Linked DNA regions of Homo sapiens: region 2 is linked to region 1. The links come from fine-mapping of genetic effects on gene expression. Tissue or cell type: thyroid. Region 1 holds a variant in brackets; the other region holds the start of a gene. All regions are shown on one strand. Distances are between the middles of the regions.

What was found. PIP is the estimated chance that this variant, and not a neighbour inherited with it, causes the effect.
Region 2: KCNJ2-AS1 starts here. The variant in region 1 is fine-mapped to the expression of KCNJ2-AS1 in thyroid (GTEx, PIP 0.99).

Annotation. Positions count from the first base shown.
Region 1 is chr17:70,072,046-70,080,233 of GRCh38, reverse strand. KCNJ16 (potassium inwardly rectifying channel subfamily J member 16) reads right to left here and starts at 5,009. Exons shown (of 4, transcript NM_170741.4): 1 at 4,844-5,009. LOC105371881 (a long non-coding RNA gene) reads left to right here and starts at 5,427. Exons shown (of 3, transcript XR_934952.3): 1 at 5,427-7,008. The variant G/A (reference allele first, on the strand shown) is at 5,028.
Region 2 is chr17:70,164,847-70,173,034 of GRCh38, reverse strand. KCNJ2-AS1 (KCNJ2 antisense RNA 1) reads left to right here and starts at 3,633. Exons shown (of 1, transcript NR_036534.1): 1 at 3,633-6,074. KCNJ2 (potassium inwardly rectifying channel subfamily J member 2) reads right to left here and starts at 3,503. Exons shown (of 2, transcript NM_000891.3): 1 at 3,334-3,503. RefSeq lists a silencer at 3,448-3,907.

The sequences.
Region 1 (8,188 bases):
GGTAGGACTCATACATATGAACTACATGAAAACATGGAGGAAATTATGTAACAGCCAAAATATATGATATGGATAGTGATTTTAATGGAAGAGGAAGCAATGTCATTAGAAGGTTGGACTGTCACTGTCAGTGTCTCAGAAATAACTTACTCTTTACCTCAATTTAAAAAAATCTTTTTCTCTTTAACCAAGTTGCATTACAAAAAAGCTATAGCATTAACAATGCTGTACTGCCAGATGTGGTTGCTCACGCCTGTAATCCCAGCACTTTGGGAGGCCGAAGTGGGTGGATTACTTGAGGCTAGGAGTTCGAGACCAGCCTGGCCAACATGGTGAAACCCCATCTCTACTAAAAATACAAAAAATAGCCAGGCATGGTGGTGGGTGCCTGTAATCCCAGCTACTTGGGAAGCGGAGGCAAGAGAATTGCTTGAACCTGGGAGGCGGAGGTTGCAGTGGGCCGAGATCATGCCACTGCCCTCTAGCCTAGGCAATAGAGTGAGACTCCATCTAAAAACATAAAAATAAATAATAAAATAAAAATGCTGTACTAAATTAATGGATGCTTCTATATGCAAATGATGGTATTTTTAGGCAGATCCATTTTATGAAATTTAATATTTATATGATTACTAAAGTATGATTCTTAATTTCTTTTAGAGAAATGGAAGCTTGAAACATATAATGTCTAATAACTGGATGGCAAAAGACAATCAGGATGAAGTTGGATTCTGTTATTGTGATGTTTAATTTTATATGTCAACTTGGCTAGGCTATGGTACCCAGTTGTTTGATCAAACACCTGTCTGGATATTGCTAGGAAGATACATATTAGATGTGAGGAACATTTCTCATCTGTAGACTTTGAGAAAAGCAGATTATTATCCTCCATAATGTAGGTGGGCCTTATCTAATCAGTTGCAACCCTTAAGAGCAAAAGCCAAGATTTCCTGGGAAAGGAGTTCTGCTTCAAAAATGTAACATACAAATGCCATCCAAGTTTCCTATTCTGGCATACTCTGCAGATTTGAACTCAATACTGCAATGTCAACTCTTACTAGAATTTCTACCAGCCCGCCCTACAGATTTCATACTTGCCAGCCACCATAATCGCTTGAGCCAATTCCTTAAGATCTCTCTGTGTTTTTCTCCCTCTTGCTCTCCTGTATCCTGTTTCTTCTGCTTCTCTAGAGATCCTTGACTAATAACCAAACGGTAGTAGAAAAAAAGACCATTTTAAGAGAACTGTCTGAGTTCTCTTAAGAGTGAGTTTCTGACAGTGGAAAATCGTGTAATAGAGTTCATAGTGAAAATGATATTTCAGTGTCTAAAAGTTCTGAATTCCACAAGCACACGCAGGACAATATTAACCTGCCTCAAACTTGGCTATCATCCCTCTTGCCTTCCTGGAAAAAAGTGTGATTGGTTGGTGTGCTAATTGTACGTTATGTTATGATGGTGCTGGACCATTGCATGGCTCTTAATTATTTACAGACATGCCTTTTTCTGCCAGGCTGGGGGCAGGGACCAGATCTTTGTTATCTTTGTCCCCAGACTGTCCGGTACAGTGGTACTTAATAAATGTTTATTGATTGCATGAGAACATGCCTCTGATTTAAAATGGGATACAACAAAAAATTAAAATTTACCAAAACAAGAGTGTTTTTGGTCATGTTTGCTAGAACACACATTTTTCTTAAAATAAAAAAGATAACTGAATATTTGTTTCTCAGTTAAAAGGAGAGCAAATCTTACAAAATACAATCTGAAGCCATGTAACCATTTGGAGTCTCTAAAGCTATTTTCATATAAGGAAAATAAAATTAGGAATGGAGGTGATCTTTTTGGAACATGTTAAGGTAAAAATCACCTTTTTTTTATGCGGAGTTGTTGGATAAATCTAATTTGGGACTGTTTTTTCCCCAGATGATTGACTTTTTAAAATTTTCTTATACACCTGTCAGCAGTTTCAGATCTAGTTTTAGGAGGGGGAGAATGTGGAGCCATGGCAACTGGGAAAAGTTGCATTTAATAGTGAGAAGCCTCTATTAGAATGTTATGTTTTGCATCCAGATCCTTGATTTCAGAGTAGAACTTTCTGGAACAAGGTGAGGAAAAAAATCTGATCCTATCTTTTTCATTTAAAAGCAGCTATACAAAAAAATAAAGTCATCCACCCCTTGTGTTTAACAGAGTGAAATAACTACAAAGCCTAGGGTCCATAGGCCCTAAAGCATGATGATAAAAATAGTTCTCCTCCCAGTCTGCAGAAGCTAACCAGCTAAGAAAGCAAAATGTAACTGTCTTTGTATAGGAAAGCATTCTTCATGCAATGCATTTCAGATAAACTATCTTTTTTTTTTTTCTGAATCTGGGCCCTTGGGCCTGAAAAATTTAACCAAGAACCAGCTATTTGAGTTTACTTTCATTTCCCATAGACATCTCAGAAGATGAGCCCTTATTACCATGGTTTCCAGCAAAGGGGCCATTTGGAGATGCCAAAGCTGATGGATGGACTCACTAAAATGCAAGAAAAAACAAACAAACAAAAAAAAAAAACACAGCCTAACCAGGAAAGAGGCATTTGGAGAAAGACTTCTAATTCTGTTTACTGTCCATGAAATCTACTTTTACTTAGATTTCTTAATTTCCTGTCTCTTGACAACATCTGGTTTGAGCTACAGAGGGCCTGGCTTCTGTGTTGAGATTTGTGTTTCCCTTACAAGTTTCATGTTGGTGAGCATATTGTTAGCCTCAGCACAGCCTTGATGTTCAGAAACCTTTTTATTTACTCCATTGGGTACACTGGAGGAGCCTAACTTCATTTGCTCTCATGCTTATGCTAATTCTGCTCATTCTCACATCTATATTTTGTTCACTTGTATCATCAGCCTGTCATCCGCAATACTCCTCACTGTCTCTCCACTTATCTAAATCTACGCTTCCCATGGTCTTTTCTAACATCTCAAAAACCTTCTCTGACACTTGTAGCTTGCAGAATCGTATCTGTCTTGGTAAATATTATGGCACATCTACAGGACCTCATGTATTCCCTGCTACTCCCACTCCTGCAATTTTGCTTCAGCCACACTGGCCTCTTTGCTGTTTTGTTAACTCGCCAGGCACACCTCAGCCTTAGGGCTGTTCCATCTGCCTGAACTGCTCTTCTCCAAGGATTCTACGTTGCTCACTTCCTTGCCACCTCCAGGTCTTTGGCTAAATATCACCCCCTTAGTGAAGACTTCTTTGACAGTTCCATTTATAAATGGAAAATGGTGGGAGGTAGCTTTGAAGATGGCTCCCAATGATCTTCTTATGCTGGAACTCAAGTTCTTGTATGAGGACAAGTGGTAGGTTTTACTAATTTAACAAAGAAAATACCTGTATTATTTCGGTGCCAAATATTTACTTTCAATGCCCTTTATATATTTTGCCTCAAACTATACTTTTTTTCCATTTCTAATTTTCAATTAATTTATATCCAGGTCTTAGCTTGTACTCACCACTAATCTATATAATAGAAGAAACATATATTTTTCAATATCCTTGAAGACTCTTGTTCTCTCTCATGCTGAAATTCTTGTTGAGAAAAATGCATTAAAATAGAATATTGAATTCCTCTCCCAAAGCAGTCTTTTCTTGCAGTTTCAAAGGTTGTCAGTCTTGTTGTATATGAGACTAATAATCTTAGATTTATCACAATTATCGTGTTCTAAAAATAAACAAGCAGGATTACATCTCTAAGTTACTCAGGCTCTCTTTCTCTTTCTCTCTCTTTTGATTTGAATTGAACTCTGGACCTTGTTCACTTTTAAATTCTTTTTGGCTGAATTTCAGGAATTCCTTAAATGTATTCTGCAAAACAGCTGTGGTTTGGGTACTTCATGTTCCTTTATTGGTTAAAATCTGACATAAAGAGTGGCTAGTCTACATTTCCCATACTAAAGTAACAAAGGTGCATTCATACATTTTTTTCTTCTTCAGGATCTGGCTCTTACTAGCCATAAGAGTAATATTTAGCAGAAATACTCCAATACTCTTTTTCTAAAGACCATTCAGTCCATGTAATACACATGATCAAAATTCATCTGGCTTATAGAAATGTTATTGTTTACTACCTAAATATACCAACAAGGAAAACTGTTCAATTATATATGTCAGAGAATTCGTGGCATCCAGAGAGCAAAGTTTTACAAGCTCACACTTTTCTGACTAAATACTCAAAACAAAATTTTAAGATTTTTAAATGATAAGAAAAAAAAAAAAGCTTTAGAGGGATTAAGGTGAAAACAAAAGGAGAAAATTCTTCACTTTCAATTTATGTTAAAATAAATCTAGAAAAAATAGATCTCTTATTTCCTTTCAATGATTATAGACAACTATAAAAAAAAGTTAACGTGTATTTTCTCTGAGCTTTTTAAGAGGGGGGTATAAAATACATATTTTTCAATATTTGCAATTATATGTTCATAAGTGCATACAGGATGCAAAAATCTGGTTTTGAAAGACATTGCAGAATACTCCATGTGGTATGAATATAATAAAGCCACTTTTAGACATTTACAAATATAATAGCAGGCAAGGGCTGTTTAACAGACTCTGTAAACACCAATGTGAGACTACTTTTAACCAAAGCTTCAAAATAACTTAAGGAATATGACACACTGTTTGATTCCTACTTAAAGCACTTGGATAAAAAATTAAATTATCTTAATTGCATTTAATTGATCATTAATATTTACGTTTGCTGGAAACAGAGTGTTGCTGCTCCCCAAACACAGATGCCAGCAAGAGCAAAACATAGGCTGAATGACATTGTATCCATAGCAATAATAGCACTTACCTTTATTCACTCTCCCCACAGAGAATCTATGAGCTAGGTGCTTTCAGCTGGGCAATGGTAGAGAATGCTCTTTAGTTAATAATAAAGGAAAGAAAAGCTCCAGACACCAAGAACCTGGGTTAACCATTGACACCGGTTTGTTCCTACAGTTCCTCCCTGGGAATCTACATAGGTAGCCCCTGGC[G/A]TCTTATCAAGCAAGCCATAGCCAGTCAGCTGTGGCAGTGATTACGTCACCACCTCTGTACCTCTGGAGGAGGTACAGTGTGAAGGTCACCCAAGTATATCCTGACTAAGTTTTTACTTGATCAGGGATACAAAGGAGGAAGATTTGCTGGGCCAGAACTATGCTCAACAATGCCTGTAAGTGACTCAAATATTTACAGACAGGATTGTTGAGAGACGACCTATGGAAATGCTCCTGCTAGTTTTCAGACTCTGTTGGAATAGTACAAATAAATCCCTTTCATCAGAACTCTTTGTCTACATCTTAACAGCTGAGGATTGGGATTGCATGCTGACGAAAAGCGAGACAGGATAATGACAGGTAGCTAAGCATCCATTCAGTCTTTTATTTACCAAACCTTTAATGATTATTTTTCCTGTGCTGCCTAGTTCCAAAGAACATGAGTTCACAGTTGATTAGCCCTCTGACTAATCAACATGGATGGCAGAAATTGGGGTTGGAAAGTCTTCCTTTCCTCAACCCCAGGAATCAGAGCTCGAGCCTGAGATGGTGAATACAATGCAGGCTGTGGTATAGGTTTTGCCTGGCATTGAGTCCTAATGGGTTAAATAAAATGGTGAGGTGATCCCGTGGTCAGTGCTCTCCAGGAGGTAGAAAAGTGAGTGATCAGGGAAGAGGTAGACTTATAATGCTAGAATCAAGAGAAAGATCCAGAAAATGTGAAAAGCAGCCATGGGGAACTAAACAAATAGCAACCCTAGGCTCTTCAGAACCTGGGGGAGTTGTGTCCAGGAATGCTCAATAGAAGTGTTATGCTAGCAAGGAATTAGTTTTTCCTTTGCTTCACAGAGCGGTGGCAGCCAGGGGATCTAGGGAACCACATCAGGCTTGGTTAACACTGCAAATTTAAGAGGCCTTTTCTAGGTTCTGACAATCGTTGCTGTTTGACGGTTGTTAGAGTTTTGTTTCCATTTTTAAAAGCATGAACACTTGAGGAAGTGGACTTCTATGTTGGCACCGCCACTTACTAGCTGTGTGACACTGAGAAACTGCTTAACCTTTCTGCAACTCCATTTTCTCAACTGTCAAATGGGGATGATAATAGCAACAACGACAACACCTACCACAGATAGATAATTCGTGTTCCAAACTCATAGCTGTCACTAAGGTATACATATTCTGATAGGAAGACCTATTTTGCAATCTGTTACACAATATCTGCAGAAGAGTTTGAACTCTCCAAGGGACCTATCTTTTCATTCATCCATAAATCTCAGGTAAGCAGTGAATGCAGAGGTTGCCTTTTCTGTTAAAAAAAAAAATTGAAGACTAAACAAATGCCTACATTTCCATAACAATTGCAGCAACTCTCATTGTGGTTTATCCATGATGTTGTTCAATATTATCACTTAATGCTGCTCAATTACTGCCTTGTTTGAAAGCAGAGCACACTTTGTTAGAGTTCTATCTCAAAAGACTTAAAAAAAACACACACGCAAAAATGGACAGGACTCCATCTGCTCTGCAAATACAATTTCAGGAAAGGTGATTTTATGTGGGTGAGCATTTAGATTGATCTGAGAAGACGAGGCATCTAAACACAGCGTAAAAACAGACCATGGAGAAGAGCAAGACGGGAGGCAAGATGGGGAAACTAGATGGATTCCCAACTCCAGCTGAGTCAGATCGCCATTGCGTGGCTTCATTCCTTTGTTTGAAGTAAATTCCCAGAATATCAGACACACCCATACTCACATGTAAGTAGAAAAACACTTTCTAAAGCCAAATAAATAAAAATGATATCTGGATTGGCTTTTCTGTTACATGTCTCTGCCTCCTCAGTCTACCTTAACTGATAATTAACTTCATTGAAGTTCAACTTTTGTGAACTTTAATCCTCCCCCAAACAGAAAGACAAACTGAGGCAAGTTGAGGAGGCATGTTCAAGATTTGTCAAATTACAAGAATTTGTTACTTGAATGTAAGTGATAAATAATTATCTCTTTCAAAAATCTGTAATGTATTGCTGTTCTGTGATTTTAGTATTGGCCTAAGAGGAAGTTACATTGTACAAAGGGGTTACTTGTTAGAGAGAACACTCTAGCTCCGTCACTGGAAGACTGTGGCTTGCTTCCAGTTTTTGTAAGGACTCCCAGCTAAGAATGGTTTTTACAATGATAAATAGCGGGGGAAAAGTAAAAGAAAACTAATATTTGTGACATGAAAATGATGTGAAATTCACATTTCTATGTCTGTAAATCATGTTTATTGGTAAATATGCCTATCCCTATTTTTTTACTTACTGTCAATGAAGGCATCATATTACACAACAGAATTCAGTGACCTTCAAGACCTCAACAGAGACTGTGGTCCTTAAAGCCTAAAATATTTTGTATCTGGCCCTTTACAGAAAAAAAAAACAAAAACAAAACTAGCTAAGCCGTAAAATTTACTCTTCTCCAAAAGTAATGTTCCTCTTTTCTGATTAATGATTTTCCTCTCACGGTTAAGTCCAAGTCAACTGCATTTCTATGACTTAAAATCCTATCTTTCCTTCAATATTCCTTTTACTAAGTCTTTCCTTGCCTACTATAAATATCAATAAATAGTTTATTTCAAAATTAATAATAATAAAAGAATAATACTCTTTAAAGGCACGATGTTTTTCAATCTATATATTTTAGCTTTTAGTTGCATGTCTTATTTCCTCTACTAAATTCTAAATATTTGTGGTTAGGAACTTACTGAATCTTACTCATCTTTTTTTTTTTAATTTTTAATTTTTGTGTGTTTTCAGATGGGGTTTTCCTATGTTGTCCAGGCTGGTCTCAAACTCCTGGACTCAGGCAATCCTCCCGCCTCAGCCTCCGAAGTAGCTGGGACTATAGGCATGTGTCATTGTGCTTGACTCCCTCATTCATCTTTGAGTCCAACCAAGTGACTAACAGAAAGCTAGAATTCAGTACTGATACTAATACTAATACTGAGGGATGAATGCTTTTCTGAATTAAGCAAACAAGCATATTAGGAAAATAAAACTGTTTGTCTTTTAAAGGTTTCTTTACCTTTTTCTTCAGTTTACTTTCTTAATGAGCTTCCCTATCACTGTCCATCGTCCATCTCTCCTGAGTCGCAAGACCCTCTTGCTGCCCAGATACTGC
Region 2 (8,188 bases), 93 kb before region 1:
ATTACTTTATAAAAAGAAGTTACTGTGCTTTCCTAACCTTCCACCTGCTTCAATGTTTTGTCTGCTTCCCTGTGAAGTTTGCACTTGGACCAAAGAAACAAGAATCCTGCCCCTCGAAGTTCTAGATCCTGTACATGGACAGCATTTTTTAAGCAATTATTTCATCTTAGTTTTCTCACATTACTAAACAGACAGAGACAGCAACAACACCAAACGCAGGTATACGTTTCAAAAAAAGGAGAAGAACTTCATTCAATGAATGCTTTGTATTTTTGAGTTCTGATTGACTTCAGAACTTTGTATTATAAGCTGACACCAAGAAATTCCCTTTTCATGATTCAAAACAATCCTTCCATGTGAGTTACCATTAGGGGCCATGAGTAGACAGTCTCAAATTTCTTCTGACTTATTTCTGTACTCCTTCCAGATTAAAACATAACAACCATATGAAATCTAAAGACTGAATTATGACTTTCCAAAAATCTTGACCCCAGGACATTTGTTTGAATTCCACAAATCACACAATACCAGCTTCCTATGAATAGCTTTCCACATTTAGAATCTTGAAAGTAGCCTGTATTGAGAGACTATTATTGTCTTATTTCCATTGCTAATAACAGAATTTGTTCCACATGTGGAGCATCATTTAGAAATTTTACCATTTCTTCCTGGAAAGAGAAAAAGAGGAGTTTTGGGCTTTTTTTTTTTTTTTTTTTTTTTTTGGCAAAAAGAAAACTTTTGCCACTTTAAATAGATATGCCCCCAAACAGATTTATGTGTGTATGCAGGTGCACACACATATATGTATGCAGACTTTTTGTGGAGCTGATTACATAGCTAAAGTCTAGAACCTGTCAAGGTTTGATGGGGTAACGGTCTTAATATTTCATGGTAAAAATTGCTTTTACTGTTAACCTGCCCACATGCCTGAGCGACTTTAAGCAAGCAGAAAACTTCCTTGCCCGGTCCTCTCACTAGCAATTACCAATTCGTGAGCAGCTGAGAAAAGCTATCATTAAAAAAACAGGGCTTACATGCAACTTTATTTCAAGCATATATTCAAAATAATGTTTGAGATGCAATCAATGAGGAGTAGATGAGAACACTAAGTGATACAAATCCAGAGAATTGAAATTTGATTTGATGAACAATGTGTAAATCTCCCTTCCAGCCAAAATATTTAAGGGTCTAGATGTAAATTTCATGGACACAAATAATCATTTTTATCCAGGCCATAACCCATGATGTAGAAAGTATTTTTGGGAAATTGAGAGGTTACATGTGGTGCTGTTCATGTTAAGACTATTTATAGGCTGAGCCAAAATTAAGCATAAGCAATGGAAAAAAATAGTTCAGCGTTTTAAACTTAGGTAGATGTTAAAGGAGAAAGAGCTATGGATAAATGTAAGGTCAAGGAGATCACATGGTACAAATGGGGGATCTAAATTGCTTTGACTATATAGGTAATACTTCCAATATGGCTTATAAATAACTAAAAAAAAAAATCAAATGAGAGTAAATGTGTCCTGTAATATGGTCATGGTGTGCAATAAATAAGAAAGTTTCTAAGGATAGGAAATAAAGATAGCAAAAGAAAACGTACTGGGCTGAGAGAGAGGTCTGCTAATGAGTGTTTAGAGCAGCTATTCCCCAGCTGACGCCATATAGAACAGCCTGAGTGTGCTCTGGGCACATGTTGCTATGTGAGCACAACTGCTAGGAAAGCAGCCTCTTAGAAGCTCAATAAACATGAGGGAGGAGGAGGGGGAAGTGGGGAGGGGAGGGGGATACCCATCTATCTACGTGTGAGCCCCCTGTCTAACATTTATACTCAACGACACTTGGCTTGTAGCACTGCTCAGCATTTGCATACGCTGAAAAACAGACATGTTTGGTAAATAAAAATATACACTTAAAAAAATCTGAAACACTTAATCTGTGCAGGTAGCTGTTTTCAATCTTTCAGGCTACGCAAAAGTCATACAAGGACGCTACAGCTAACCAGAGATTCTACAACTCAGGAATCCAAAGGATGTAGAAAGACTGTGTTCTTTTATTTTTTTTAAAAGCAAAATTCACATGAGTTTAGATCAAATATTTCTTATGGAGACCAAGAACATTAAAAAATAAAGTGTCATTAAAATATGAGAGAGGAGGAAGCTAAGTAAAATGGCCTTGACCTTATCCTCACCCTTTCCACCATGCTTCAATTAACATCTCTTACCCCTTCTGAGCACCAGGATTTTTCCAGATAATGGCAAATAGAAATGAAACATTTGGAAGTGAGCAGGAAAACGCTAACAAGTGTACAGATAATGTACAGCAGACACACAACATTGGTTGGCGAGAGGAAATCTGGCAGCCTATTGATTATTAATGTGAAAAGAAAACAAATGATAAAACGCAATATGGTTTCTTTGCATATCCGAGGTTTTCAAATAACACCTTATTTCCTAACAGGTAAAATCTGAATTTATGAAAATCGTCGGAATTCACAGCCTTTTATCCTAGTGATCATCCTATGATATCCTTACCCAGACACAGACATTAAACTGCCCATTCCCTATCCCTATTTTTTTTCCAATTGTCATGATGAATCCACGCTATGATGCAATCTTTTTGCAGAATCAAGTCGTTTTGACTATTTTGCTTTCCTAAAACCACACTGTCTTCAAGCCAGGTATTAATACCATTATTACTGAAAATAACAAATTGGTTAGGGGAGAGTGATATGTAATGTGAAAGTTTTGCGATCCTCAGGCTCAAATCCAACTCGGGCTCCCGCTCTTCTTTCAGGAAGGCAACTTTGAGACACTCACTCTGTTTGAAACTCACAGCTATACTTGAAGCAATGACGAAAAAAAAAAAAAGCCAAGGATCAAGAATAGTGCTGAGTCCCAAGCTTTGCCAAGGTTTAAGACCAGGGCTCAAGACGCACCCCCAAACCCGCAACCACGTTTTCTTTCTTTTTTTCCCCACTTAGAGTGAGAACCGAACACAGACGCTCTCGCCCTTGCCTCCAAACCCAGTATCTCGCTACAGCTGGTGCATTGGAAGTTATGAGCACAAACAGATGCTGCAGAGAAATCTGTTTCTATTGCTCAACTGTTCCAAGCATGTCTCAGTATTTTTAGCTCTGGGGATGTTCTGGTGCGCACACAAACTATATAGGCATGATCTGGGACTCCGGAGTGTGGGTGAGCGCTACAGCAGTGTGACAGCTGGGCACCTCTGGAGCAGCGGGGCAGGGTAGGGTAGGGGACGGCGGCCAGAGTCCATTCCCCAGGACACACCGGCAGCGAGCGAAAAGGAAGAAAACACAGCAGCCCTTACCTGTTGCTGGCGCAGGAGCATGGGGACATGGAGTGGAAGTGGGGGGTACAGAGGCATGTAAGATCCAGTGGTTTGTAAAAAGCGAGTGAGCCAAAGCAAACCAGAATTCCCAAGACCCAGCCCGCCGGCGCCGGGAAGGCTGCGCGCTGGCCAGGGCTCCAGTGCGCTCTGCAATATCCTGGGCTCTTTTGAGGCGGTCCGTGCGACACCGGCTCTCCTGGCCCCGCCCCCGGCCGCTGCCGGCCAATCGCAGCGCGCCTGGCCGCGCGGCCGGCCCCGGGAACCGCGGCGGGGAGGGGAGGATGCTGCGAGGCGTTGCCAGCGGAGGGAACCTGCCGCCGCCTCGTCCCCCTCCACCCTCGGAGCCCGGCCGGGGAGTCGGGCCCGGGCCGGGGAGGAGGAAGTTGCGGCCCAGCTGGGACAGCAGCAGGTGGGAAGCTCCGCGCCCGGCTGTTGCGGCTGCCTGATTGCAGCCTGGCCTTGGGCAAAGCTTCCTACTCCGTCTGGAGCCCCACACACTTCCCGGTTCCCCCGCTCTTGGGCCGCTTGCCCTGCGTGCTCCTCGAGGGGCCTGCGAGGTGCCAGCGCCGGGTAGAGACCTTTGCCGCAGGGGCAGGATTGTTCGTCGGTCCCGGCGCGTCTCCCTCTCCACTCCCTCTCTGCCGGAGCCCCTCGGCCCTTCGAAGCCCCCCGCGGAGGCTGCAGCGCCCGGAGAAGCCACTGAGTCAATGGGGCGAGGGACTGGGGCGGGCGCGCAGAGCCCCCAGGATTGAGACGCGCGCAAGTGCGGCCACTGCAGCGCCGCTTGGCTGTTTGTTCTCCCGACTGTTCGCGAATTACTTACAAGGCGCCTAGGCTTCTCCGAAGGGTGGACGGCTCGTTCCCTCTCGCCTTGTCCGCCCTCAGTCTCTCCACCACCGCCCGGCACGCTTTGCTGATCTAAAATCAGAACAATTAGAGAGTAATGATTTTTTTTGGAATAGCAACTCCTACAGACACTCAGATCTGCCCTCGCTTCAGCGCCTCCCAGCCCTCCTTCCCAGCAGCCAGGCGAGAGCGCGCAGACCCCTAAAAAGCAACTTCAGTGTTAACCGGGTCTGGATCCTGGAACTTTATAAACTAATCCGTGTGTGTGTGTGTGTGTGTGTGTGTAAACCGAAGAGTAAGTGCCTATTATTTCTGAGTACTTCGGTGTCCTAACGAAGCTTTGCTCCTAAAGGACAGGATATATTTTAGGAGTCTTTCTTTCCACTGAGTTTTTTAAATGTTTATTTTCTCGAGCGATCAAATGTGTCTTTTGTGCAGTTTATTTAAACCTCGTAAGGCCTCCTTGAGTCGCTGAACTAATTCAGCAAACTAGCTGGTATTGTGGACGGCGCAGTCGGGGTGGATTTTTGTGTGTAGGAGAGGTGAAACTGACAATTCAAGGAAAGGTTCTGTGCGAGTCCCCACCTCCCATCCTCATATCCACACGTGGCCCCTAGGAGGTGCTGGTGAAATATGCTTGCTTAGGTTTCGCAGATCCGCACTTACTCCTGCCTTAACAAGTGTGCCTTTTTTCTTAGCACTGAGCAAGGTACTTAAATTAAAAGGGTGTGCAAGAGATGATGCACTCGGTGTGGCTGCTCTGATAGCCAAATGGCGATGTGGTCCCAGTTAATGTGTTGAGATTATACTGTTCACCAAGCCCTGTTACGAACTCTGTTGCCATGCACGTGGGAATAATGCCTGCCCCAAGGGAGGTCTTCTTTAACATCTATTTAGTCATGTGTTATTTATAAACAGCTTGAATTAATACTGTAAAATAGACGGATGTCTAAGAATCTAGGCTGTAGCCTAAAGCTAAATGAACCTGAGGGTAGACAAGTTCACTCTGTATTAACCAAAGGATAATGAATGAGTTCACCGCTCAGTTCAATAAGCTTCTTCTGAAATATGCTTCCTCCTGGACTTCTAAGAAACAGGCCAAAAGTTTAATTATCCCTTAAAACATGTTAAGCCTAAATAGAAAAAGGAAATTAATCATTTATAGATTTTCTCTTCTTTATTATGATTCAGTTGGTGCATCTGTAGATGGCTAAGAATTTTCCAAACCACGTGAATTCAGAGAGGCAACACTTTTGTTGTTGTTGTTTTTCCAGGTAATGAGCTCGCTTTGAAAACCAGTCACTCGGAAAGGGATGGCATTTTTATGCAACTTGGATTGAAATGGTTTTGCTTTAGTATTCTACTCTAATTAGAAAGAATACACCACAGGCCGAAATAGTTTCATATGATAGGAAAATCTTTAAAGAAAGGAACACAGAGTTATTAGATTATGGTTGGCTGTATAAATTTAGCTGGGCAGCGGGAGGAAGGTCATAATAAATGTATCCTGCTCTCTCTCATCAATTATCAGCAGCACATCCCCCAACATTCTCTCCTCCCAAAGACTGAAGGATGTGCAGCAAAGCTTAGATCTTGAAGGAGAAGGTTCGGGAAAAATTAATGATTTTAATTAGAACTTTCCAATCTAAGTAGAATCATTACCTTAATTAGCTAAATAAGGAAGTATGAAGGATGAAATTTTGCAAATGAAATTTTGTAAATGTATGGTAGCGTAGAATACCCCCATTGCTTCATTTTAAAAAAAGAAAATATAAATGCATTTTAATTAATAAATGACTTTTCATCATGTCCCTATTAGGAAAATTCTGTGTGCCAATGCTTTCAGTGTTTGATTTAATACATCTTTTGAAGTGATGCGTGATGCAGATTTCTGTATTCAGAGTCTATCTTTTTTGGCTGAATCAGGCCTTATTTAGCAAAAATCCCCATTAGTCTTGGACACGAATGCAATTGGGTGTTGGGATCCATCTGTGGATTAAATTTTTCCAAGGAAATGACAATTATGCTCTTACTGATTCTCTCCACGGTAACCACCTATAATATTAGAGCCAAATATTAGTCACAATCTGGATCTGCAGTCAGATTGTGAATAGCTGTGTGACGCAGAAGGTGATTGTTTCACTAGAAGCACAGATCTTTCCTTTGCATTTATATAAAGATCCCCAACAATTAGACATACTTTCAGACTTACATTAACCATGTATATGCAGTTCAAATTCACAATGGTAAAACATCAAACGCTCCTGGCATTTGTATCCACTGGATATTAAAAACCACTTTCTAATCTTCAAAGTAATCATCATTAGCAATAAATAGTAAATAAATCATTGTCAGATTGCCCGGAAATGTAGACAGGCTGAGTTTGCAATCTGCTGCTATGAGAACAAGCCACTTACTGTGGTATTTTAAGGCACTGTATGTAATCTTATTTATTGGAAAACAGTTTTGGCCTTTAGTTTCACTTACTGCATTGATAATATTTAATCTTCATATTTTTAAATTCAGTGAACGTATTTGTTGAAATAACTACGTTGTACTTTGGCTATATGCTAGGTGAGATGAAAGACAGAAGTGTCCTAGCGGGAGTAATTCCTCTTCTTAAGAGTTCAAAATGTCTAACTGAGAAGATGAACAAGGCAGAAGTGAAACATTTAAATGATTAAACAACAATATAAGGCAGCTTATGATTATGCACTAAAATGGATCAAGCAACAAATAAAACGATAATCTTAGATTTTGAAGAATGGAATGAAGCAGGGTAAGACTTTGTAATGGAAGATTTAATACATATGACATATTACTATGTGTAGTGGTATTAAGGATGCTGAGAACACGTCAGAAGATAGGAGTGGCTCCTCATTCAGTTAATTTCTTAAATGCCTGCTATGCCCCAGACCTTTCTATATACAGGTAATCAAGCATATGAATTATAAGTTGTTTCTAAGAATAAATGTCAGTTACATGGAAATGAATGAAAGGAACAGTATGTTTTAGTATAACTTTTGATGATTACTCAATATGATTATAATAAACATAAGCTATTTCATTTTTTACCTGCAATACAGTAGGCCTATCAGGTTACAGTAGAGCCTTTTCTCCTGCATTAAATGACCCTAGACTAAGCTTATTTAAGCCCTTCTGCTTGTTTTCCCTTCTCCATCAATGTGAGCCTTCCGTTCTCATTTTTGCTTCTGATAATGTGCCTTGAATCTGTCAGACTGTCACCATGCTCTGCCTAATTTGTTGATTCTAATCTGTGCTGGGCTGATAAATTATGTAACCAAGGTTGCTAAAGTAATGTACAAGCAAATATGATTTAACATATCTAAAGATGCATTTTTGAAATAGTATGAGCAGATGCTGAATTTGGAGTTACCTTCGCTTGGTCAACCTCCTTTTTGGGTAAAAAAGCTTCAGGATTTGGATTTATGGCATCTATTTTGCTTCTCAGAGCATTTAAATGGCTTAGTCTTTGTATTTGCTGTTATAAATAGCTGAGGAAAACTTCTGAGTAAGTGAGATACCCGCGTGTTTGCAACTATCCATATGTTTATATGTACACATAAAATCATGTACTGATGTATTGAGAAAATATTTCAGTGCTTACTTTATCCGTTTATTATTATGACCTTTATTTTCCATCAAATATGTTAAAACCAAAATCAATAAGTGGGGCTGTTCTTTAAGAAGCTCACACTTCCAGAGCCTCCATGTTATTATTTAGTAAATTACCTATTCTGTCATGCTCTGGAAGACTTCATTTATCTCACATGAGTGAGACAATTACACTCTGAAAATACCATATTCATTTTAGGGCCAGACCCTACATTACTATGTTTCTTGATTCAGTGATTACAATGATCATTTCATCTGTGTTTTCTGGGATACATTAGGTCTCCCAAAGGTAATGAGTTTACAGCCTCGGTTTACCCTCTATAACCACGGATGGCAGTTCCTTAGATCAGGT